7 linked regions of the Homo sapiens genome follow. The protein of the gene in region 6 purifies or fractionates together with the protein of the main gene of each other region. This does not show direct contact. Each region holds a gene or a part of one and is shown on either strand. Other genes may lie near its edges.

Region 1 (3,500 bases), on a different chromosome or scaffold from region 6:
CATTAAGCATATACATGAAACATGTAATTGCCTTAGAGTTTTCACCTAATGATCTAAAAAAACAAATGGAGGAAGATTAAAATATTTTGAGTAGACATAAAAACCACACAGTCTTGATGCTTAAAAACATGATTTGCAGGCATAGCTTACAGTATTTTTCTTTTTAAATTTAGCAATTCATGATGACCAATAAACTGGACACGGCAATGTGGCTTTCTCGCTTGTTCACAGTTTACTGCTCTGCTCTGTTTGTTCTGCCTCTTCTTGGGTATGTATTATACATATTGCTGCCTTTGATATTCAATTGTTGAGTCAGTTTATATGGAGTGCCTTTTAGGTGTAAGACTTATTAACCTGTAAAGGGTTTAGGGACAAATAAAATACAAGTTCCAGCCTTCAGGTACTAACAACCTAATAACATTATCAGAGGAATATTTTATATCTTGTGCTTTGTGAAACTAACACATTGAAAATCCAAGGAAAAATTGATGTGTGGGAATGAGATAAGTTCATGTTTTTTTCATTTTTACTTATTACTTGACAGGAAGGTCCTGCTTTATAAAATTCAATTTTATAAATTGATTATAAGAAATTCAGTTGGGCATATATATGAAGTGAAGCTATTAAAACGGTAGAATAAGTTCATGTAATTTTTTTCTATTGACAAGTGATTTAGGTGTTGTGCAATTATGATGCAATTCACAAAGGAGGAAGAGACACTGCAGTTGTTTATGTCTCATGATAACCTCTCCTCTGGTAATTTGCAGGTTGCATGAAGCAGCAAGCTTTTACCAACGTGCTTTGCTGGCAAATGCTCTTACCAGTGCTCTGAGGCTGCATCAAAGATTACCACACTTCCAGTTAAGCAGAGCATTCCTGGCCCAGGCTTTGTTAGAGGACAGCTGCCACTACCTGTTGTATTCACTCATCTTTGTAAATTCCTATCCAGTTACAAGTATCCTTTTCTACCTTGTTAACAATGAAATTGCCAACTAAGCATATAGGAGATCTCTTCTGATTATTTCAGCAATGAAGGCATTCCATGAAGCCTGGGTTTGTTCTCGGCACTTCATTTGAATGAAGATATGTTTAGTGTAAGAATTTCTGACTTTAAAATGTGAAATCTAAACTTTGAAGAGCTGATTTAGGAATTTTAAACTATCTTTGTTCTTGCCTCTTGTAAGCTTCCCTATTAGAATGGATATTTTCAAATTCCCCTTCGAAGCACAACCTTACGCAGAACTTACTTTAATATTTACATTTTTTTCATTTAATTCACGTTTTTGGCAAAGTGTCCAGATGTCTTGCTTTAAAAAAGAGAGGTCCTCAGCTCTTTCCATCTTAACCCCAGTGAACTAGATACAAATGGAATTTAACCAAGAAACAACTTATTTAAGCAGGTAATGAGATAATCAATACAAAGAAATTAATATTTGCTGTGTATAGAGTAGAAAATAAGGACACACATGGATAATCCGTGAAGCTAATGAGAAATAATTCATTTGGAATTTGTATGTTTTCACATTTCAAAGGTGTGTTGTGGGATGATACTGGGTAGTCCATAAAGGAGGGGAAAAATGGGGAAGAGGTTCTATAGTGAACACTAGGTTAAACTTTCTTTTTTTTTTTTTTTTTTTTTTTTGAGACAGAGTCTTGCTCTGTTGCCCAGGCCACCTGCCTCTGCCTCCCAAAGTGCTGGGATTATAGGCGTGAGCCATCACGCCCAGCCAGGTCAAACATTTTTAAATAGGGTTCTTTACTATAGTGGCTTTGGTATTCTAACGTGTGTTGTGAAACTAAGAGAGTTAGTAGGGTTTTTTAAACTTAAATTTGTGGTTGTTTTTTTTCCTGTAGATTATCTCTGCAAATCATTTTGTGCATTGAGAAGTGCTGGTCTAAGAGCTTTTGAATATTTATGATACATCTGTATGTTATGTAAAGCACAATAAAATATTCCTCTGAGACTGAATATTACCTATTTAGATACCTATGCTCATGAAGTATCAAATTTTTAAATAGATTTTTATAAGTCTTAAGGAAAAGAAATAGGAGGAAACCGAAATTTCCTGAGCACCTATTTTGCCAGTATAAGAACTTGAATTTAGGCCAGGCGCGGTGGCTCACGTGCGGTGGCACTTTGGGAGGCTGAGGTGGGCGGATCATGAGGTCAGGAGATTGAGACCATCCTGGCTAATATGGCGAAACCCCATCTCTACTAAAAATACAAAAAATTAGCTGGGCATGGTGGCATGTGCCTGTAGTCCCAGCTGCTCGGGAGGCTGAGGCAGGAGAATCGTTTGAACCCTGGAGTGGAGGTTGCAGTGAACTGAGATTGTGCCACTGCACTCTAGCCTGGGCGACAGAGCGAGACTCCTTCTCAAAAAAAAAAAAAAAAAAAAAAAGAACTTGACATTTAATCTTTGTAGCACTCTGAAAAAAATTGTTGTGGTATATTTTTAATAAAGATGCTGATTTGCTGATTGTCAGTATTCACTTCCCACACATTGGCTAGTAAGTAGTAATGCTGAAAAAGTCTTTCTAACTTAAAAGCTCTACCTTATCTACAGTTAGTGGGTGAGTAATACTTAAGTATACATTAAAAATATTTCTTTCTGTATGTGGGTAAACCTGGTAATTTCATTTAAATATTCAGTATATGGAGATTCCCTTTAAATTACTCACTTCACTGAGATAATGTGGGTAGTTTGAAATGTAAGGATAAAATTTTTCCTGTTTCAATGCATGAGTCTGTAATGTCCCATCATAATTTGTATTGGTTTATTTTTAGGTAAAACTCATTAAATGATTACTATACTACAACTGTAAATGATAATCACATTTGTTTGGCATATTATTGGCTTGACCAGCCTCTGTTGATTGAAGTGCTTTGCAGTCACCAATGTTAAAATTCTAGCCTTTCTGAGCTATAACGGGAAGTTATGTAGAGATTTTTGGTCATGCCTTTTAGTAGCTTAAAATTTCTTTGGAGGGAGAAATAGAAATGACAGAAAATGTGTTTCAATGTAGGGTAAACTGAATACGTCAATAACTTTGGGAACAGTGCCTCACACAGATCAGGCACTCAGTAAGTTTTGTTGAGTGAATCCTGAGGTCTTGCCAAATGAGACTCATGACTGGTGAAGAAAACCTTTCTGCCTTTTTATACAGTTGGTTATTTGGTAGCCCCTCTTTCCTGGGAATGTTGAAGATTAAGGATTTCATATTCCTTAAATTCTTACAAAGGGAATGTAGTAAACAGTGGGAATAACATAAACTAGTAATTGGCAGCAAATGCTAATCTGATTATTAAAGTGATATGGTAATAAATAAAAGCGGGCCCAAAGTAATATTACAGATTTGCGTTCTGATCCTTCTTCTTATAAAAGTGATATTTTGTCCTTGCTTGATTAATAACAGATAGGGCATTTCACCTCTTATCTTTTCTAAATACATTGTATTAATAGTTTAAGAGTAATGTTGAAGACTAAGATTATGAATCT
Region 2 (2,778 bases), on a different chromosome or scaffold from region 6:
ACACACAATACATGCACACACATAATACACATGCACACATACACGCACACATATACACACAGAGTTTTGCATATAATTTCGGCGGCTTTGTGACTCTTCCCTGCCCATCTCCCCTGCCAACCCTGACGAAGAACCTCTGCTCCTCGGCTCTGGTTGGGCTTCCTGAGGCTGTGGAAAGAACAGGGCACTAGAGTCAGACAGAGCAAGCATGGCTTAGAATCCCAGCTTCTCCACTAAGAAGCTGTGTGACCCTAAACAAGTTATATAACCTTGGTTTCCTCATCTATAAAATGGGAATTATAACATCCACCTGCTGTGGAAATTAATGAGTAATGCATATAAAATGTCTGGCCCACTAGAAATGCTCAACAATATTAGTTTAATGAATGCTTAGTCTCGACTGCCAGGAGTGAACTTGAGGACATTTCATGAGCCGTTAGGGGGTCAGCTCCCCTCACTGATGTCCAGCACCTGGCCCAGGGTCAGCTACACAGTGGGTGCACATCTTCAGTGGGGTGGGTCCCCCTCTCCCAAAAGGTGGCCACCTCTGGCTGGGAGCTGGCAGGACCCTTCTCAGCCAGCAGGGGGCAGAGTCGGTCCACTGGACCCTGGCCGCCGGCTCAGGCTCCCTGTGGCCAGATGCCAGCCCTTTTCCCTGCAACTGGAGAGATGTGAGGAGCAGAGGACTAGGGCAGGGACTGTTGTCCCCAGAGCACTGGTCCTGTCTGGGTGTCAAGGCTCTTCCCACAGCTGACAGAGCCTGTGATTGGAGCTGGGAGGATAAGGCTCCCTGGAGCCCTTCCTGTCATTTTGTTCCTAAGCCTCTTAACCCTACACTGGGAACTCCTAGATAGGCAGGCAAGCACTCAGCAACAATTGGCTTAGGGGATGAATGGGGAGATGGAGGCACAGAGGCAGAGCCCAGATTCCCTCTCAGGTCTCCAGTTCCCTAGACCAGGCCTCTCCCCAAAGGCCCCAGGTCAGCAGTGTGGTAAGCAGGGATCTAAAGGCAGGGCGTCCTGCGGTCTGGGCCACGTGTGTGGGAGGACGCTGCCTTTTCCTCAGACTCTCCTTTCAGGGAGTGTGCGGGTCCCTGCTCTGGTTTGAGAGGGAACCAACTACTCCTCTGGTCTGTGCGGCACCTCCTGTCTTGGGGCCCATACCCCTAGAGTGCCCTGGGCATGGGGACCCGCACCCACTTTGAACCTGGTATTTCTGGCCAGGTCCGTGGGCCACATCCACAGGCGAGTCACTGACCACCTGGGTGTCGTCTACTATGTGGGAGACACTTTCTCCGAAGAGTACACAGGCTCCAGCCTCAAAACAGTCGAGCGGAATGTGGAAGATGATTATATCGCCAACCTCCGGAACAACTGCTGGAAGGAGAAGCAGCAGAGTGAGTGTGGGGGGAAGGCGGGGGCTGTATTTGGGAGGTGGCTTGGGATGAAGCTGGAAAGCAGGGGAAGGAGAGAGCCCTGCTCACCCTGTGCTCTGAGGGCCCAGCCCCTGGCACTGCCCTGCACCAGCCACCTCCCAGACAAGAGCTGGTCTCCACTCCTGTGTTTCTCCGGGGCTGGGAGCCAGGGGCCACCTGGTAGTTTCCTCAGGTTCCCGTAAATCACTGCCATCAGCCCAGCATGTTGGCTGCCAGAGGTGAGTGTGTAGAGATGGACTGGAGCGGATGGATCCCTGGCCACCCCCTGACTGTGCTCCTGGATCTGTCTGTGGGACCCTGGGGAGGCCTGACCAGGATGACAGGGTCTCACCTTGGCTGGCCTCACTGCATTCTAGAGAAAGGCGCCTCTGTCACCCTCGCCCACATAAGGACTGTAGTCTCTGCTCCTCCATGGTCTTCCTAATGGGAGGCCAGCCCTGCCCAAGCCCCGGGCATGTACCAGCTTTCCTCCGCCCTCCACAGCCCTCGCAGGCTTCCTTGCAGGCTTCGGGAGGTACTGGGTGTGCACTAACCCTGTCCCATTGCTTTGCAGAGGAAGGCTTGCTGTACCGGGCACGCTACTTTGGCGACACAGATATGTACCACAGAGCACAGAAGATGGGCACCCCCAGCTGCAGCCGACTGTCAGAGGTGCAGGCCTCCCTGCATGGATAGTCCTGGGCCAGCCACACCACCGAGGTCCAAGTATGAGCCAGGGCTGCCTCCACCCTGCAACTCCTGGCAGCTTTGGCCCTGGTCATGAGCAGAGGAGGGAGGGGGAGAAAGGGAGGAAGCCTGGTGATTGTGGCAAAGACTCCTGTCCCCAGCCTGACCTCCAGCCTCCAGAGACCGAGCAGCTGTGGGGCCTGCTGGGAAACCAAGGTCGGTTTCCGCCCTCTAGCGATGCTGTCCTCCCCACTCCTCCGCTCTGCTCCCTGGCTCCAGGGGTGTGGGGGACCCCAGAACCAGGCAGAGTGGGAACTTGAAACTGTTGCTGAGGGCCACCCGGGGCTTCTTGGTCCACTCCAGCCATCAGTCAGCACGGCCCTTTCTCCAGCACAGCAGACTATTGTCCGTGCCCTGGTATTTAGGCCATCACATATGGTGGGGCCCAAGAGAGCCCCATATGCACACTGCCTGCCTGATACCAGGAAGAACCATGTGGGAATAGGTGGGCCAAGAGCCCTCCCCTTTCTCCATCCCTCCAGCTAGGAGGAAATGGAGCAAGATGAACAGGCAGCCACGAGGTGGGTGGGAGCTGGCAGTCTTGGTGGCGGCAGGGGCCGCGGGCCCTGACCACCCCCCTCTGGTGGGATCTGAGGCACTCTCTCGAATGCCGTCAC
Region 3 (3,500 bases), on a different chromosome or scaffold from region 6:
GACAGAAATTGGCAGGGGGAATTTATCTAAATTAATGGAGACAAAAGAGGCATGCAACCAAATGCAATGGGGAAGCCTGGCAGAATTTTTTTTTTTTTTTTTGAAACGGAGTTTCGCTCTTATTGCCTAGGATGGAGTGCAATGGTGCAATCGTGGCTCGCCGCAACCTCCGCCTCCCAAGTTCAAGCGATTCTCCTGCCTCAGCCTGGAGTAGCTGGGATTACAGGCATGCACCACCACGCCCAGCTAATTTTGTAGTTTTAGTAGAGATGGCGTTTCTCCATGTTGGTCAGGCTGGTCTCAAACTCCCGACCTCAGGTGATCTGCCTGCATTGGCCTCCCAAAGTGCTGGGATTACAGGCCCGGATCTTGGATTTTTTTTTTTTTGAGACAAGAGCCTCACTCTGTCACCCAGGCTGGAGTGCAGTGGCACGATCTCGGCTCACTGCAAGCTCTGCCTCCCAGATTTAAGCGATTCTCCTGCCTCAGCCTCCCAAGTAGCTGGGACTACAGGCGCACGCCACCACACCCAGCTAATTTTTGTATTTTTAGTAGAGACTGGGTTTCACCATGTTGGGCAGGATGGTCTCCATCTCTTGACTTCGTGATCCGCCCAACTCCGCCTTCCAAAGTACTGGGATTACAGGCGTGAGCCACCGCGCCCAACCAGGTCCTGGATTTTAAAATCACAGCTATAAAGGACATTTTTAGGACAACTAGAGAAACTTGAATATAGGCTGCATAGTAGATACTACTATTCACTATTAAATTTCTTGGGTATTGTATGTGTGCATGTTTTTGTTTCTTTCTCTCTTTCTTTTTTTTTTTTTGAGACAGGGTCTCACTCTGTCACCCAGGCTGGAGGAGTGCAGCAGCACAATCACAGCTCACTGCAGTCTCAACCTCCCAGGCTCAAGAGATCCTCCAGTCTCAGTCTCCTGAGTAGCTGGGACTACAGGTGTGTGCCATCATGCCCAGCTAATTTTTGTATTTTTTGCAGAGAGAAGGTTTCGCCATGTTGCCTAGGCTGATCTTGAAGTTCTGGGCTTAAGAGATCCACCCGCCTTGGCCTCCCAAAGTGCTGGGATTACAGGCGTGAGCCACCATGCCGGCCTGTAGAACACCTTTGTTCTTAGAAGACACACGCTGGTCTTTAGAAGCAGTGTCTGGTCTGTAACGTCCTTTCAAACGGTTCTGCGAAAAAATTTTATACATATACATAAAGCAGAAACAAGCATGGTGGTGTGTGCCTGTAGTCTCAGCTACATGAGGAGCTAAGGCAAGATGATCACTTGTGCCCAGGTGTTCGAGCCTTCAGTGAGCAATAACGCAAGATCCTGTCTCTAAAAAGTAAAAATAGGCCAGACGTGGTGGCTCACGCCTGTAATACCAGCACTTTGGGAGACCGAGGCGGGCGGATCACCTGAGGTCGGGAGTTCAAGACCAGCCTGACCAACATGGAGAAACCCTGTCTCTATTAAAAATACAAAATTAGCCGGGCATGGTGGTGCATGCCTGTAATCCCAGCTACTCAGGAGGCTGACGCAGGAGAATCGCTTGAACCCCGGAAGCGGAGGTTGCGGTGAGCGGAGATCACGCCATTGCTCTGCAGCCTGGGCAACAAGAGCGAAACTCCATCTCAAAAAAAAAAAAAGTAAAAATAAAAGATAAAGCAAATGTTGCAAAATGTTAATAATTGATGGGAGAAGGGTATACAGTTGTTCACTGCATTATTTTATTTATTTATTTATTTTAGATAGGGTCTCACTTTGTCACCCAGGCTGGAGTGCAGCGGTGCAATCATAGCTCACTGCAGCCTCGAACTCCTGGGCTCAAGCAATCCTCCCACCTCAGCTTCCCAAGTAGCTGGGAATACAGGTGTGCGCCACCATGCCCAGCTAATTTTTTTATTTTTTGTAGAGACGAGGTCTCGCTACATTGCCCAAGCTGTTCTCAAACCCCTGGGCTCAAGCGATCTACCCGCCCTGGCTTCCCAACGTGCTGAGATTACAGGCATGAGGTCACTGTGCCCAGCCCATTGCCCTATTCTTTAAACTTTTTTGTAGCTTTGAAATTTTTCAAAATAAAAAGTGGGGGGAAATATACATATCTGTATTTGACAATATATGCACAAAGAATCTCTGGAAGGATATCAAGAAAAAAATATGGTAATTGTGGCTCTCTGGGGAACAAAGGAACTGAATGGATATAGAGTAGGTGGGAAGCAGAATATTTACTATATAACTTTATACCATTTCCATATAATTGATGACATCATCAGTTTTAAGACAGACCATTATTTTATTGACCAAAAGTAAGAAAAAACATTGCCAATTTGCAGGCTGGGCACCATGGCTCACGCCTGTAATCCCAGCACTTTGAGAGGCCGAGATGGACGGATCACTTGAGGTCAGGAGTTCGAGACCAGCCTGGCCAACACAGTGAAACTCTGTCTCTACTAAAAATAAGCCGGGTGTGACGGCGTGCGCCTGTAATCCCAGCTACACAGGAGGCTGAGGCAGGAGAATCGCTTGAGCCCAGGAGGCAGAGGTTGCAGTGAGCTGAGATCGTGCCACACTGCACTCTAGCCTGAGTGACAGAGCCAGACTCAATCTCCAAAAAATAAAAATAAAAATGCCAATTTGTAACTGTAAGATGCCAGAAATTTTAAAACACAGACATGAAAATGTTTTCAGAAATATCAAAATGTTCATCTTAGAACTGACAAAATTTGGAACATCTTTGTGAACTGTAAATCATATATAAATGCACTACCTATTCAAAAAAATAAAAAGTCAAGAAAGTTAAGCAGAAAAAAAAAAGGCAAGCAGAATAGGATAGTTGGGGAAGAATGAGAAGGAGCAGCTGATGAGACACGAGGAAAGCCCAGAGAGCGTGGAGTCTCCATAGCCAGGGGCAGAGATTGGACAAATGTGATAATGCCACTGAGGGCTCCCATGTGAAAGGATGGCACTACCGGGACTAACGCGTTCATGACACTAACAGCATCGAGTCAGCTGTGAATCCAGCAAGAATCGTTTTGGTGGTGACAGCAGTGATAAAGAAGCCTGGCTGACAATATACAGAGAGAATAGAGATAGGGTACCACCTGGGTAGGATATGGGGGTAGGGAGAGGGCCCAGGGAGGGCTGCAGCTGGGGGTCATTTTAGGTGGAAATAAGCCAGAGATGTGTAGGATACATAGAAAGGTTGCAATTACAGTAGAGACAGATGTTACCTGATAGACAAAGCCCGTGAAGAGGGAGACACAGGGGCACCAGTGCAAGGAGGTGGACAAGCCTTGATCCTAACAGGTGGGAAGCCGAACAGGATCCAAGCAGATGCAGGCAGGTTTGAGGTCTTAGATGGGCAGTGAGAGCATCTTGGATGTCTGCTTCAATTTTCTGTTTTATTATTTTATTTTCACAGGCATTCAATTTTGTTTTATTTTTTATTTGAGACAGGGTCTCACTCTATTGCCCAGCCTGGAGTGCGGTGGT
Region 4 (3,426 bases), on a different chromosome or scaffold from region 6:
GTTATGCTTGTCTAAGATGAATGCTGGTCTTGCTCTGAGTGGACGTTTTTAATGGAACATGTTTAAGTCCTTCAGATGTGCACAAAGACACTTAAAGGTATTCCAGCTGTTCTTTCACAGTGCTGATAAAGCCACGGCTCTCTATTCTGTCTCTAGTTAGACTTAACAAGCATAGTTAAAAACAAGTGTGCTCCTAGTCCAGCCGTCCATCCTGCAGATGGCATGTCACTAGTGATCAGCATTTAGTAAGCCTTTGATTCTGTGACTTGAGAAAGTACATCTTTTATTTTCCAAAATTGGGGAATTCACAGTGATTAGGATGCTAGGCAGTAAAATCATTTTCCATTTTCTTTACTTGATGTCTTGACATCCTGTTTCTGATTAGACCACTTGTTTTTTGTGGCAGTTTCATTGATTGGAGTGCAACATGCGAAGGCCAGTTTTCCAGCGCATACTGTCCATTGGAATTGAACGATTACAATGCCTTTCCAGAAGGTAAGGGCTCTTCAGACAATCCCAACGCCATTATTTTATTCTTAGAAGGTCAAAGCAGGAAGTGTGTGGACTAAGAAGAATCCTTTTAACAGCGAGCAGACTTTGAGAATGAGCTTGCAGTAGACTGCCGAATGGCTTCATGTGGATCCAGTTGTGCACTGATGCCATATATAATTTTATATGACCCTCAAAAAGCCCTCAATTTTGGGTGTCTGGGGGCTTCAAAAATAACCCTAATCCATTTAGTCCTTCCAGTTAGGTAGAACTAGGTCATTTGGATCCATGTAGATGTAACATTGTTGGGTATCCATTGGGAAGCCGGGGCTTTAGCTGCTCGCTCTTCTTTTTAGGCAGTCAAGTCCCATGTGAAATAGAAACATTGGCCTGCTTCCTATTATGTCCTTAACTTCTCTGCCCTTGGGTGGTGCTGCAGAAGGAAGGAAAGAAGCTTGGAGGGGAAATTGTGGAAAATTGCAGATGCTTGGGCTCAAGCATCTGTAATAATAAAAAAATGAGAGCTATGGGATATCCCTGGTCAACTGGAAAATGCTCTATTGTGCACTACTGTTGGATCATGGTTTCTTATACTAGAGCTGCCCTTTCAGGGAAGGGATGTATCATTCTTATCTAGATTTTGATACATGCATTGCTCCATGCTAACCACAAGGGGGTGCTTTGGGAATGTTATGATTGTGAGGGTCTGTGTTCATTATGTTCTTAATGGTATCTAAGGAGTCCTTGGTTTTGGATTGCTGTATCAGCCCAGATGATATATGTGTAGGTCGCTGAGGTTGGCATGACAGGTAATAAAAACATTTTAAAGACTGGCAAGAACCTTGACACTATTTAGATATCTAGTAGTATTTTAATGTATTTTGTGTAATAGAAAGATTCCCATCAAGTGATCAAATAGAGAAAAACAAGCCAGGAGGAAGACCTTCCACATTGAGGGCTTCCCAGGTTGTGTGTCTGATAAAAAGTTTTAATCTTGAGAATGATGTTGCAACGACTCTCCTGGTCCACACGGACCAAGTATTTATGTCTGTAACTTGTCAGTATAGTGAGACCTTGAAAGCTTTTTTGCCTGAGAGTGAGAATTCAGTTCTCAATGAAAATGTTTACCTATGATGATATTCTCCCATTCTTTGTAGAAAACATGAACTATGCCAATGGCTTCCCCTGTCCTGCAGATGTTCAGACAGACTTTATTGATCACAACTCTCAGTCTACCTGGAACACCCCACCCAACATGCCTGCTGCCTGGGGACATGCCAGTTTCATCAGCTCTCCGGTCAGTGTTGCCCATCCTGTGCCGTGAACCCCTGGGCAGCTCTGAATTGTTTCCACTGCTTCCTTAATCCTGGTCTCAGCTAGCTTTAGCGTTGGGTTTGGACCAGCCAAAGCCTGGCTTGCTTCTTTTAGATCACAGAAGCCAGGGCTGGCCACCCTCTGAAGGAAACTGACATGTAATAATTAGATGGGTGGGGTCTTGCAGACATTGACATTCTGGCCACCCCAAATGAAAAACATCCCCAAACACACCAAGCAATGGTCCTTTGTAGATAAAATTGAACATGGGCCAGCCCTCTGTGTGACACAGCTGTCTTTATGTGGACTCACTGATCTTTACTTCACCGATACGAGATGAAAGTCCCAGGAAGGTCAGTGGGTGGTCAGGGTCCCAGAGCTCCCTGCCTGTGAGCACACCCTCCCTGCTCAGAAGCCCGATGGCTTCTCCTTTCACATCCGCTTGACACTTGTTTTTGTTTTTTTCCAGATAAAGGGTATTTGGCCTGTGGGTTCTTCCCCGGGTTGCAAATAAGTTCATCCCATTAGATGAGGATTTCACAATCCTCCCTTTGAGAAAAAATGGAGTTAAAGCAACCCAGATTTAAATTGAGAGTAGTCTAATAACTTCCAAGTAACTTGATAGCATTGTAGTATTCGCTGATGTGTATTCACCTTTCTAAGGCTTTTTTTTTTCTTTTAACTTATTTTTCCTTCCTCATTTATACTTCAGCCCTACCTCACAAGCACCCGAAGCTTGTCTCCAATGTCTGGACTTTTTGGTTCCATCTGGGCCCCGCAAAGCGATGTGTATGAAAATTGCTGCCCCATCAACCCCACCACGGAACATTCGACCCACATGGAAAACCAAGCGGTCGTGTGCAAGGAATACTACCCGGGGTTCAACCCGTTTCGCGCCTATATGAACCTGGACATATGGACTACCACAGCGAATAGGAATGCAAATTTCCCACTGTCTAGAGACTCGAGTTACTGTGGGAATGTGTGAAAATAATTGGATTTTTAAACAATGTGAATAAAGAGGCTTGTGTTTTGATTACTAGTGTAAACTGGTTATTGAGATAGATTATGACATTGGTGGATATTTTGGCACTTTTATATGAAAATAAATTTTTTAATGAAATCTGGGTGCTCTGTTTTTTTTAACTCTTCATAAATCAGTGGTAAAAACAAAGCATCCATATGTCAGAACTTTCAAAAGTCAAGAAGTGTGTCAGGCATGCCGAATGTTTTAAATCTGAACACGGGAGACGTCTTTTTTTTTTTTTTTTTTTTTTTTTTGAGACAGAGTCTCGCTCTGTCGCCCAGGCTAGAGTGCAGTGGTGCGATCTTGGCTCACTGCAACCTCTGCCTCCTGGGTTCAAGCAATTCTCCTGCCTCAGCCTCCTGAGTAGCTGGGATTACAGGCGCACGTGTGCCACCACGTCCAGTTAATAGAGATTTTCAGTAGAGACGAGGTTTCACCCTGTTGGTCAGGCTGGTCTCGAACTCCTGAACAAGGGAGACTTCTAAGAAGGTAGGAGTTGAGCAAGAAATGGCTGCTATGGTTTTCCTCCTCCTGAGCATCACAACCATCTGGGGAGCTTTCAAAAAATGAAGTTGCTCAGCCGTTGAGAACTGCTG
Region 5 (3,500 bases), on a different chromosome or scaffold from region 6:
CCATAGGAACGCACCTTCTGCACAGGAAGGAGCACAGGTCAGCAGGGGCGCACGGGAAGGTGAGCGCCCTCGAAGGTGAGCGCCCCCAGCCCCAACCCCACCCTGACGGGCTGTGAATGCTGCAGGTGACCTGAAGCCACACCCCTAGTCCTGAAAAGGGGCTGCTGGCCCAAGTGACCTCCCGGGAGGAGCCCAGAGGAGGCTGGGAGCAGGGGGCGGGTACCTCCATCATGGCCTGTTTGTGGGAGCTGTCCAGCTGGACCTTCTGAAGCACCTGCAGCAAGTTCTGGGGCTTCACCCCAACTCTGCAGGGAAAAACCCACAGCCCGGTGAGCACAGCCAGCTCGGCTCCCTTGGAACCCTGGCCTGGGTCCTCCTGCCCTGGCGTCTGGCTTGAGCTTTGCCATGAAGCCACTTTGCAGCTTGAGCCACACCAAGAGCCCCTGTAACGAGCATCCTGCCACTGCCGTCCCCCCGAGAAGGCGCAAACTGACTTCACCACTATGAGCAGTCAGGACCAGAACTTTCCACTGCAATGTCCCTCAAGCTCTCTGCCCTCATTTCCAAGCAGGATGGTGGTGTGGACACCTGGCCCACGCACCTCTGGCTCTGCTGCCTAAGTCAGCACAGAAGGGTAGAAGAGCACAAAGGGGGACAAGAAGGCCGGGCCACTCGGCCCTTCACCAGCCCAGGGTCCCCGGGGGGCACGAAGACAAAGGCATGGACTCAGGACAAGGACGCCGGGAACCACAGAGCGCCAGGGACATGGTGGTTTCCATGAGTCGGGTGCCAGCCAGCAGGGGCGAGGCACAGGCCAAGCACAAGAAGCCCCTAATGAACACCCGGCCCCTGCCCAGCAGCCACAGCACCCACCCTCAGGGAGAAGAGGGTCCATGCCCAGCACTCACGCCTGAGGGAAGGCTCCTCCCTCCCCCACCATGGAGGATAGGACTTCAAAGGCAGCCCGGGTTCCCAGCCGCCTCCGAAACAGCGAGGTCTGGAGAGATTTCTGCAAAGAGGAAGGCTATGAACGGCAGGATCAGCCCTCCCCCAGCTCAGAACCCCCGACCCTTCCCTCCCCTGGGGAACAGGCAGAGGGGGAGTCTGGGCAGCCTTGGGGGGGGGCCCAGTTCCCCACAGCCTGGGGGCAGCCCCTCACCCCCCAGGAATGAGAGGATTGGTCAGACTCCCGGGACAGGCCGCACAGGAAGGAGTCTGACGGGCGTGCTGCGCAATATGCTGGGCCGCGTTTCTCCTCTGTGTGTTGGGGGCGCCCCCAGCTCCCCCTCAAGAGGGTTTAGGGTCTGCTGTCCTGGGAGTTGCCATCTCTGGCAGTGGCTAGAGCAACAACACATGTGCATCCCCGGCTGATCCACAAGAGGTGGCAACCCTGCCCTCCCGTCCCACCAGGGGCCTGGCCAGCAAGGGTCACCCAGCTGCTCATCTCAAGCCACACCCTGCTTGGCCTCCCGGCAGCTCCAGGCACAGCCAGCATTGGGGAGCTCGCTCACCATCAGGTAGCCCCGGAACTGACTGTAGATGATGGCTGTCAGCAGGTTCATCAGAAACAGGCTTCCTTCAAGAGGAGACAGCCACGGTCAGGGGCGCCACCAGTACAGCAGCAAAACCAACGCAAGGGTGGCCGGCACAGGATAGCACAGCGCCGGGGGCGTCCCCTATCAAATGGAAACATGGCCTGGCCAGCGCAGTCACAGGTGGGAGGATGACGAGGTCAATGGTGGGGACAGAACAGAAAGTGTGGGGTGGGGGATCCCTGGGGTGAAGCTGTTGGTGGGGGATCCCTGGGGTGAAGCTGTTGGTGGGGGATCCCTGGGGTGAAGCCGTGGCATGGGGGATCCCTGGGGTGAAGCTGTTGGTGGGGGATCCCTGGGGTGAAGCTGTTGGTGGGGGATCCCCGGGGTGAAGCTGTTGGTGGGGGATCCCTGGGGTGAACCTGTTGGCGGGGGATCCCTGGGGTGAAGCCGTGGGGTGGGGGATCCCTGGGGTGAAGCTGTTGGTGAGGGATCCCTGGGGTGAAGCTGTTGGTGGGGGATCCCTGGGGTGAAGCTGTTGGTGAGGGATCCCTGGGGTGAAGCTGCTGGTGGGAGATCCCTGGGGTGAAGCTGTTGGTGGGGGATCCCTCGGGTGAAGCTGTTGGTGGGGGATCTCTGGGGTGAAGCTGTTGGTGGGGGATCCCTGGGGTGAACCTGTTGGCGGGAGATCCCTGGGGTGAAGCCGTGGGGTGGGGGATCCCTCGGGTGAAGCTGTTGGTGGGGGATCTCTGGGGTTAAAAGCTGTTGGCAGGGGATCCCTGGGGTGATCTCTGGAGTGAAAAACACGGATGTGAAGTTTCAGGTCGTGGAGGCAGCAGGGTGTATCGGTCCCTGAGCTCTCGGGATCCTGTCACAAAATGCTGGCCACGTTACCTGCACTCACCTATCACAGTGAAGACTATGAAGAAGATGGCATAGGCCCGGTTCTTGGAATACGCAGGAATCATCACTAAAAGAAAAAAGAAATAACAGAAACTGACAACCTCAGTACCTGATCCCACTCCCATCCTGACGCTACACTATTTGCTTTTGCAATAGAAAGGAGGTCTCCATTGCTGAGCGTGGTGGCTCACGCCTGTAATCCCAGCACTTTGGGAGGCTGAGGCGGGTGGATCACTTGAGGTCAGGAATTCCGAGACCAGCCTGGCCAACATAGTAAAACTCCATCTCTACTAAAAATACAAAAATTAGCCAGGTGTGGTGGCTCATGCCTGTAAACCCAGCTACTCGGGAGGCTGAGGCAGGAGAATCACTTGAACCTGGGAGGTGGAGGTTGCAGTGAACCGAGACTGCACCACTGCACTCCAGTCTGGGTGACAGAGCATGGCACCATCTCAAACAAAAAAAAAAAAGAAAGAAAGAAAAAAAGAAAGAAAAGGAAAAAAAAGAAAGGAGGTCTCCTGGGAGGGCTGAAAGGCCTTCCTGTCCAAATTCGATCTCTTGCCTCTGCTCGCACACCCTCCAGGACGGGGAACTCCCTACCTATCAAGGATGTCCCTCTGCACACAGAGCTGAAACCTCCCTGCAGCCCTCCCCACAGTCAGTCCTGCTCCCCCTGCAGTCACTTCCTAGGACTCAGACGGTCCTGCTCCCAGTGCGGTCACTTCCTAGGACTCAGACGGTCCTGCTCCCAGTGCGGTCACTTCCTAGGACTCAGACGGTCCTGCTCCCAGTGCGGTCACTTCCTAGGACTCAGACGGTCCTGCTCCCACTGCGGTCACTTCCTAGGACTCAGACGGTCCTGCTCCCACTGCGGTCACTTCCTAGGACTCAGACGGTCCTGCTCCCAGTGCGGTCACTTCCTAGGACTCAGACGGTCCTGCTCCCAGTGCGGTCACTTCCTAGGACTCAGACGGTCCTGCTCCCACTGCGGTAACTTCCTAGGACTCAGACGGTCCTGCTCCCAGTGCGGTCACTTCCTAGGACTCAGACGGTCCTGCTCCCACT
Region 6 (3,500 bases):
CTTTATTTTGAGAAAAAGTTTTAAAATGTAATTTCTGCCACCTTTTTGTGTTTAAGTGACACTTTAATCTGAGAAGAACAGCGTTTACATTTAAGATAAATTTATATATATATAAATTTATATATTTGTTGGTATAGTCGTAAAATATCTCTGGAAGGACATGCAATAGATGAGTAACATTGGTTTCCTTGGGGGAGAGGAACTAGATGGCTGTGAAATAGGAGTGGGAGGGAGAGGTCACCATATAACCTTGTATGCTTCTTGGTCTTGTAATAGCTTTTTTTTTTTTTTTTTTCCAAGACGGAGTCTCACTCTGTCGCCCAGGCTTGAATGCAGTAGCGCAATCTCGGCTCACTGCAAACTCCACCTCCCGGATTCAAGCAATTCTTCATCTCAGCCTCCTGAGTAGCTGGGATTACAGGCGCCCGCCACCATGCCCGGCTAAATTTTGTATTTTTAGTAGAGATTGGGTTTCACCATCTTGGCCAGGCTGGTCTTGAACTCCTGACCTCCACCCACCTCAGCCTCCCAAAGTGCTGGGATTACAGGTGTGAGCCACCGCACCCGGCTGTAATAGCATTTTAACGTGCTCCTCAAATCACTCAATTTGACGCCTACTTCTCCCTATTTAAATCACATTATGTTATCAATTTTCTTCATGACTTTTCAATTCTTAATTGTGCCCTTGGAGCTTTTCTGAGCCCTGTGTCTGGGATGGAGATAAAATGGGGAAAGGGGAAGAGATTTCTCTCTCTCTCTCCCTCCCTCCCTCCCTCTCTCACCCTCTCTTTCCCACTCGCTCTCTCCCTCTTTTTCCTTCCCTTTATTCCATTATCCTCAGAGAGTAGTCAATGTTACATTAGCAGTGATGTGCACAAATAGACCCCATAATAAGTGCTTGCTTGGATGCAGAGGACCTAAGGAAAATAAAAGACACACTGTGAATGCTTAACGTTTAAACAGAAAGGAACTCCCCCACCCACCAAAGGACACTTATAAGCATTCCTCCCTGACAGGCCAGGGCAGCTACAAGGGAAGGTAGCTACAGACCTAACTCCCCAGGAAGGTTGAAAGCAGCCCCCAGACCCCACCACTGGAGCTGCAAGGCAGCGGGGCCAGGCACTTGCCTGCCACCAGTCTAACCTGTTTTGTCAGGCCAGGGAGCTCCCAGCTGTCTGTCTCTGTTATGTGATTAAGTGCCATCCTAAAGTTACTGGGCCCTACATGTCTTTGCAGCAGAAATAGAAAGTGTTTAGGGCAGGGAAAGTTGGTATAAACAGACTGTGCCAGTTCATTGTGGTTCTCTCTCAGATGTACGGTAGTTCCACTTCCCCCATAATGTTTTTGTGACAACTGATATGGATCCAAAATAATCTGACTCTGCCATGCTAACCCACCACCTGCTTCTCGCTTCCTCCTCCTCCACCACCCCATCACCTTTCCAAAAATATGTTGATCAGCCCCTCTAGGTTCTATGGGTTGTGGGCTCACTGTTGCTGTGGTGGAGCTGGATTGCTAAGCACAGCCTGAGAGTGGGCTCATAGGCAGAGTCTGAAGGGGAAAAAGATGACTCTTTGCGGTAACATGAAATTAACATTTGAACCTGTAAGCAAACATTTTGGAACCATCTCCTTCCTGGTTAATCAGGAGTCCCCCCTTTTAAGAGCCCCTCACTTTGGCCCCAGTTGGGAGCAGCTTCTGTATGGTCTCACTTTGGTACCAGATAACCCTGGGTTCAAATGCTGGCCCTGTTGCTTATAAAACTGTATAGCATTGGATAAACTCTCTGAGCCTTAGCTTCCTCTTTTGGAAAATGGAGATTATGTTACCTCACAGAATTGCTGTGTTATTGAGATATTCTAAAGGGTCAAGTGCAGTGTCTGACACTTAAGCACTTGGTAAATATTAGTTCCCATTCTCATTTTAGGCTTTGTGATTCTTTGGCAGGCTTTACTACTTGAGGTTTGTTCAGTAGTGGACTGTTGTAATTTTAAAATGCATTAGGACACAGTTAGTGGAAGTGAGGAAAATTGTATATTTTGGGGTGAGCTTTTGGTTAATACCTAGAAAAAAATTTACAACACACCTACCCTTTTAAAATTTTATTTATTATTATTATTATTATTATTATTTGAGACAGAGTCTCACTCTGTCGCCCAGGCTGGAGTGCAGTGGTGCGATCTCTGCTCACTGCAAGCTCCGCCTCCTGGGTTCATGCCATTCTCCTGCCTCAGCCTCCAGAGTAGCTGGGACTACAGGCACCCGCCACCATGCCCGGCTAATTCCTTTTTGTATTTTTAGTAGAGACGGGGTTTCACCATGTTAGCCAGGATGGTCTCAGTCTCCTGACCTTGTGATCCGCCCGCCTCAGCCTCCCAAAATGCTGGGATTACAGGCATGAGCCACCGTGCCCGGCCCACACCTACTCTTTTATTCAGCATTTTCAATTCTTGGACTTTCAGAAATCTATCAGAAATACTTGTGCTAGCATGTTGCAATATATAGACAGCAATATTTGTTGCAGTGGACATAAGTTGCAGAACTCATCAGATGAGACTGGTTAAATTGTAGCACATTCCCATTAAGGAATACTATGCAGCGATAAAAAGAGGTGTTTTGAGATGTCCTTTTAAGGCTACTGTCCACACATAATGTTGTGGAAAAAAAGCAAGGCACAGAACATCATGTATAGTATTATTCTATTTGATCTTTCAATAACTATATACTGTATATACACAAACATGATGTATGTAATTTATATATGATATATGTGCTTTTATGGAAGGATATGCAAGCTTTATCCTTTGGGAGCAGGATGAGTTGTTGGGAGAGAGAGAGGGGAGGTGGTACTTTTCCTTTATATTATTCTAAATGGCCTGAACTTTCTTTAATACTGACACATTACTTTTGCAATTTAAACATTATTTAAAAATGAAGCAAATAACTTATGTAGCAAAAAAATGCTTTATAAACAGAAGATTGTACTATGTGGTTACATAGCATTTTCCTTGGATTGTCGAAATGTTCTTTGTAAAGCGGTCTCTGGATATAAAGAATACTTTTACTTATTATTTGAAAGTTATAAATGGAAGTAAAATGTTTGTATCTTAAAAAATAGAAAAATGACATTTACTAAAAGCATTTCTTAGAATATTAAAAAGTTAACCTTTGTGGAACGCTGTAATTAGAAAAATCACAATTTTTCAACCTCTAGTGATAGTTTATTTAGACAAGGGTTTTCAATGAATTCCAGAATCCTAGGTGAAAGGTTATTGGGGAACATGGTACTTGCAAAGTACTATCACCCCACAGGTTACTTGCCTGTTGCAAAGAAAAGAAGGTACCTTTACAGTGAAGAGGTCTGGCAGTCACCATCTTATAAGCAAGTCATCAAATGTATCCTTGCTCATTGTGGGACTATCTAGTATCATGGTATACAGGAAGTGTACAGCTTTACCTATGTAGTATCCTTCCTGTATGTGTTTAATCTGAATCAAATC
Region 7 (3,500 bases), on a different chromosome or scaffold from region 6:
ATAAAACTTGCTTCAAAAATACTCTAGTTTCTGACTTACACAGCATACAATGGTGCAGACGATAACACTGAGCTTGGCCTATTCTAGTGCTAGGACTTACACTCACTTCTTCCCCTGGAAAGACTATATAGGGTCCCTATCTGCTTGTAATTAAAAAGGGATGAAGTCAAAGCAGAAGCTATTCAATAGCTGTCCCCCAGAATTGTTTGGGCATGTTTAATAAAGAAAATACAAAAGGCAATTTGCTGAGGTTAATTTTTTAAAGAACCACAGAGAACAGAGACAAGGGTTTTCTTACATTTATGTCCCTAATTAAAATAAATGTCAGCATACCATTAAGAAAATCATGAATAAAATTACTGCTTTTCAGTTACCTTATTGAGCTCTGGAAACAGTTCCTGTATCACAATGTCCAATAAAACATAAGTCAGCTAAAGCACCAAAAAATAATAATAATAAATGTTAAGGCACTAAACACAAAAACCATAAAAATGATACACACAAAATTAAAGATTGTGGTTACCTCTAAGTGGGAAGGCAGGGAATGGGACTGATAATATAAAACAAGCACAAAAGTAGCCTCAGTAGTATCAATAATGTTCTATTCTCAAAATAGGTAATAAGTACACATGTGTTTGCATGAGGACACTTTCATTATGCCTCATTAATTCATTTTTATGTTAAATATTTGAATTTTTAGAAAAACAAGAACACAAAATCACAACTGTATTGAGATCTCAACAGAATATATAAAGCTTATACATAGTTTACATAAACCATAAACATAAAAATGTTAACTGGTTATTCTATGTGACTTGAATAATGGAATTATCCATTTTTAATTTTTTACTGTATTTCATGAATTTTCTATGCCAAATTTTCTACAATTACTATATATTAATTTTAAATCAAAATAATTCATCTTATTTAGAAAAAACTGAAACAAAAAGAGTAACTCAAATAAAACTTTTTTTCTATCTGAATGTTTAAAATTATATTGCCTTGGTTTAGTATAGTGTCATTTATACAACTAATGAGTTACCAGACACCTTACTACGTCGTTCACCAAACCTAGCCAGCATGAGTTTACGAGCTTTAATGAGCTTTACCTGCTTGTTGAGTACTGGTTGCTGTAAGCCATCAAACAGAAGTCTGATGCTTTCATACTTGGTTTCTTCACCAATACACTTGACTAACAGATCTAAACAAAAAGGCCAAATGTGAAATAATTTTATATTATAAAGTGACTCACCATTAACTGGATCATAAAGCAAAATCACCACCCTGTTTCCCAGATACTAGGCAAAAACTGCAAATCAATACTCCCCAAACCAGTGTTTCTATAAGAGGCTCCTGGATAAGAGGTTTCTATGGTCAAGTTGACAAATGCAGTATCATGTATCCCATTTTTGGAGATTCACAATGCACAAGGCATAATGCAAACTCTGAGAAATGCTGCAGTAAAAAAAAAAAAAAAAAAAATCTGCTAGTTGGAAAATAATACTTATTGTATTACCCCACTAAGGGAAAACAAAACAAATTAAACCCTAAAATGATGTTTGTACATCTGTACATACATGTATAGAAATGCATGGAAAAATGTAAGGATTAACACCCAATGTAGGATAAGCCGACTTCTACCCAGTGGGCAGAAGATAGCTTCTACTTTTTATTCTATATATTTTCATAGTGCTCTTAATATCAGAAAAAAAAAGTTTAATTTTTAAGGCAGACTTTTCTCAGTGAATAAGAACACCTAATTTCTGGACTTTTGCATAAGTTACTATTAACCATCTTACAAACCAATCATTTTGGGAAATATAACAAATATTTAAACACTTATTTAGGGTCCAACGAGTTCAGATTTGTGTCTGGCTGCATAGATGTCATGTACCACTGATATCAATTCTGTTACCAAGAAAAGTCAATCCTTATTAAGATCTCCACTGAATGCTTCCCTAAGCAGAAAAAAAAGAAGTTATTCTTATATAAACAAGGTACTCAAATATTTATCCTTTTTCCCCTATCATAACTAAACTCCTAGTGTTGGTCATAAAAAATTCTAATGCTAGGAGACAAAGCCAAATTTAATTTACAATAGGCATAGTACATCCTTGGTATTTTCAAGATATGTGGCCCAATACAAATCTTTGTTAATCCTCAAACTCACCAATACTACATGGAATTTCCCAATTAATATGCATGAAACTAATGAACAAATATACGTAATTCTTTCACATCCTTCAGGTGTCACTAAGTAAGAGATGAGGAGCAGAGGATAACACAAAGGAATGGTAAGCTTGCTCAAGAGCTAAGTTACTCTCCCAAACGGGAGTCTTAAAGTGAATGTGGTTTGAATTTGTGCCTCAGCAAAATAACAAATTACTATATTCTCTGGCTCTCCATGTTGTTTCTGAGTATCAAAGCTGAGACTGTTGAAAGTATGAATGCTAAGGGTCATTATATCAGAAAACAGGTAAAAAAAAATTATTTCATCATTTGCCTACAGAAAATTTACTCAAAAACAGCTTATGTTCAGTTTTATATTCAGAGCAGATATTTAAGTTAATTATTTTCACAAGGAAGAGCAGAACTATTCTAAGGCTAGTTCCTCAATATTAAGAATTCTCTAAGGTTCTGTCCTAAGACCTCCTCTTTTTAAAATAAACTTTACTTTTTAAAGTAGTTTTGTGTTCACAATGAAACTGAGCAGAAGGAAGAGATTTCGCATATGTTCCCTGTCTTGTCTCCCCGACTATCAACATCCCCAACAAGAGTGTACATTTGTTACAACTGATAACACACATTGGTACATCATTATTACCCAGAGTCCATAATTTACATTGGAGTTCGTTCTTGGTGTTGTACGTTCTGTGGGTCTGGACAAATAGATGATGATATGTAACCATCATTATAGAGTAGTTTCACTGCCCCAAAAAATCCTCTCTGCTCTGCCTATTCATCCCTCCCTCCCCTCCAATCCACTGTCTTCTTAGTTTTGCCTTTTCCAAAACAGCAGATAGTTGAAAATATACAGTATGCAGTCTTTTCAGATTGGCTTCTTTCTCTTAGTAAGATGAATTTCAGGCTCCTCCATGACTTTTCATGATGTGACAGCTCATTCCTTTATAGCACTGAATAATATCCCATTGTCTAGAAGTATGAGTTTATTTATCCATTCACCTAAATAAAGAACACCTTGGTTGCTTCCAAGTTTTGGCAATTCTGAAGTTGCTATAAACATTCATGTGCAGGTTTCTGGGTGGACATGTTTTCAACTGCTTTGGGTAAATATCAAGAAACATAATTGCCAGATCTCATGGTAAGAGTGTGCTTAGTTTTGTAAGAAACTGCTCACCTGTCTTCCAAAGTGGCTACACCATTTTGCATGCCCACCAGCAATGAATGAGAATTCCACATGTTCACCAGCAAATGGTGGTGTTGGTGTTCTGGATCTGGGCCATTCTAACAGGTGTGTGGTGGTATCTCATTGTTTTAAA

What was found.
Region 1: the proteins of SLC9A7 (region 6) and TMEM33 purify together in Homo sapiens (affinity purification with mass spectrometry; one large-scale study listed by BioGRID and IntAct). This does not show direct contact.
Region 2: the proteins of SLC9A7 (region 6) and DNAJB12 purify together in Homo sapiens (affinity purification with mass spectrometry; one large-scale study listed by BioGRID and IntAct). This does not show direct contact.
Region 3: the proteins of SLC9A7 (region 6) and SCAMP5 purify together in Homo sapiens (co-immunoprecipitation; one study listed by IntAct). This does not show direct contact.
Region 4: the proteins of SLC9A7 (region 6) and TMEM131L purify together in Homo sapiens (affinity purification with mass spectrometry; one large-scale study listed by BioGRID and IntAct). This does not show direct contact.
Region 5: the proteins of SLC9A7 (region 6) and TPCN2 fractionate together in Homo sapiens (co-fractionation; one large-scale study listed by BioGRID). This does not show direct contact.
Region 7: the proteins of SLC9A7 (region 6) and SNX14 purify together in Homo sapiens (affinity purification with mass spectrometry; one large-scale study listed by BioGRID and IntAct). This does not show direct contact.

What each region holds. Positions count from the first base shown.
Region 1 is NC_000004.12:41,938,429-41,941,928, forward strand, and holds part of TMEM33 (transmembrane protein 33), read left to right. Parts: intron 1-173; coding exon 174-268; intron 269-767; coding exon 768-955; intron 956-3,500. UniProt on the Homo sapiens protein: Acts as a regulator of the tubular endoplasmic reticulum (ER) network by modulating intracellular calcium homeostasis. Mechanistically, stimulates PKD2 calcium-dependent activity. Suppresses the RTN3/4-induced formation of the ER tubules.
Region 2 is NC_000010.11:72,335,142-72,337,919, reverse strand, and holds part of DNAJB12 (dnaJ homolog subfamily B member 12), read left to right. Parts: intron 1-1,223; coding exon 1,224-1,396; intron 1,397-1,988; coding exon 1,989-2,110; 3' UTR 2,111-2,140; exon of another isoform or gene 2,141-2,778. UniProt on the Homo sapiens protein: Acts as a co-chaperone with HSPA8/Hsc70; required to promote protein folding and trafficking, prevent aggregation of client proteins, and promote unfolded proteins to endoplasmic reticulum-associated degradation (ERAD) pathway.
Region 3 is NC_000015.10:75,002,063-75,005,562, reverse strand, and holds part of SCAMP5 (secretory carrier-associated membrane protein 5), read right to left. Parts: intron 1-3,500. UniProt on the Homo sapiens protein: Required for the calcium-dependent exocytosis of signal sequence-containing cytokines such as CCL5. Probably acts in cooperation with the SNARE machinery.
Region 4 is NC_000004.12:153,633,786-153,637,211, forward strand, and holds the end of TMEM131L (transmembrane protein 131-like isoform 1 precursor), read left to right. Parts: intron 1-406; coding exon 407-495; intron 496-1,646; coding exon 1,647-1,786; intron 1,787-2,515; coding exon 2,516-2,791; 3' UTR 2,792-2,926; downstream 2,927-3,426.
Region 5 is NC_000011.10:69,069,432-69,072,931, reverse strand, and holds part of TPCN2 (two pore channel protein 2), read right to left. Parts: intron 2,503-3,500; coding exon 2,437-2,502; intron 1,577-2,436; coding exon 1,512-1,576; intron 1,010-1,511; coding exon 909-1,009; intron 306-908; coding exon 224-305; intron 18-223; coding exon 1-17. UniProt on the Homo sapiens protein: Intracellular channel initially characterized as a non-selective Ca(2+)-permeable channel activated by NAADP (nicotinic acid adenine dinucleotide phosphate), it is also a highly-selective Na(+) channel activated directly by PI(3,5)P2 (phosphatidylinositol 3,5-bisphosphate).
Region 6 is NC_000023.11:46,752,619-46,756,118, reverse strand, and holds part of SLC9A7 (sodium/hydrogen exchanger 7), read left to right. Parts: intron 1-3,500. UniProt on the Homo sapiens protein: Golgi Na(+), K(+)/(H+) antiporter. Mediates the electoneutral influx of Na(+) or K(+) in exchange for H(+). May contribute to the regulation of Golgi apparatus volume and pH.
Region 7 is NC_000006.12:85,506,859-85,510,358, forward strand, and holds part of SNX14 (sorting nexin-14), read right to left. Parts: intron 1,959-3,500; coding exon of another isoform or gene 1,912-1,958; exon of another isoform or gene 1,462-1,911; intron 1,456-1,461; coding exon of another isoform or gene 1,418-1,455; exon of another isoform or gene 1,202-1,417; coding exon 1,110-1,201; intron 432-1,109; coding exon 375-431; intron 1-374. UniProt on the Homo sapiens protein: Plays a role in maintaining normal neuronal excitability and synaptic transmission. May be involved in several stages of intracellular trafficking. Required for autophagosome clearance, possibly by mediating the fusion of lysosomes with autophagosomes.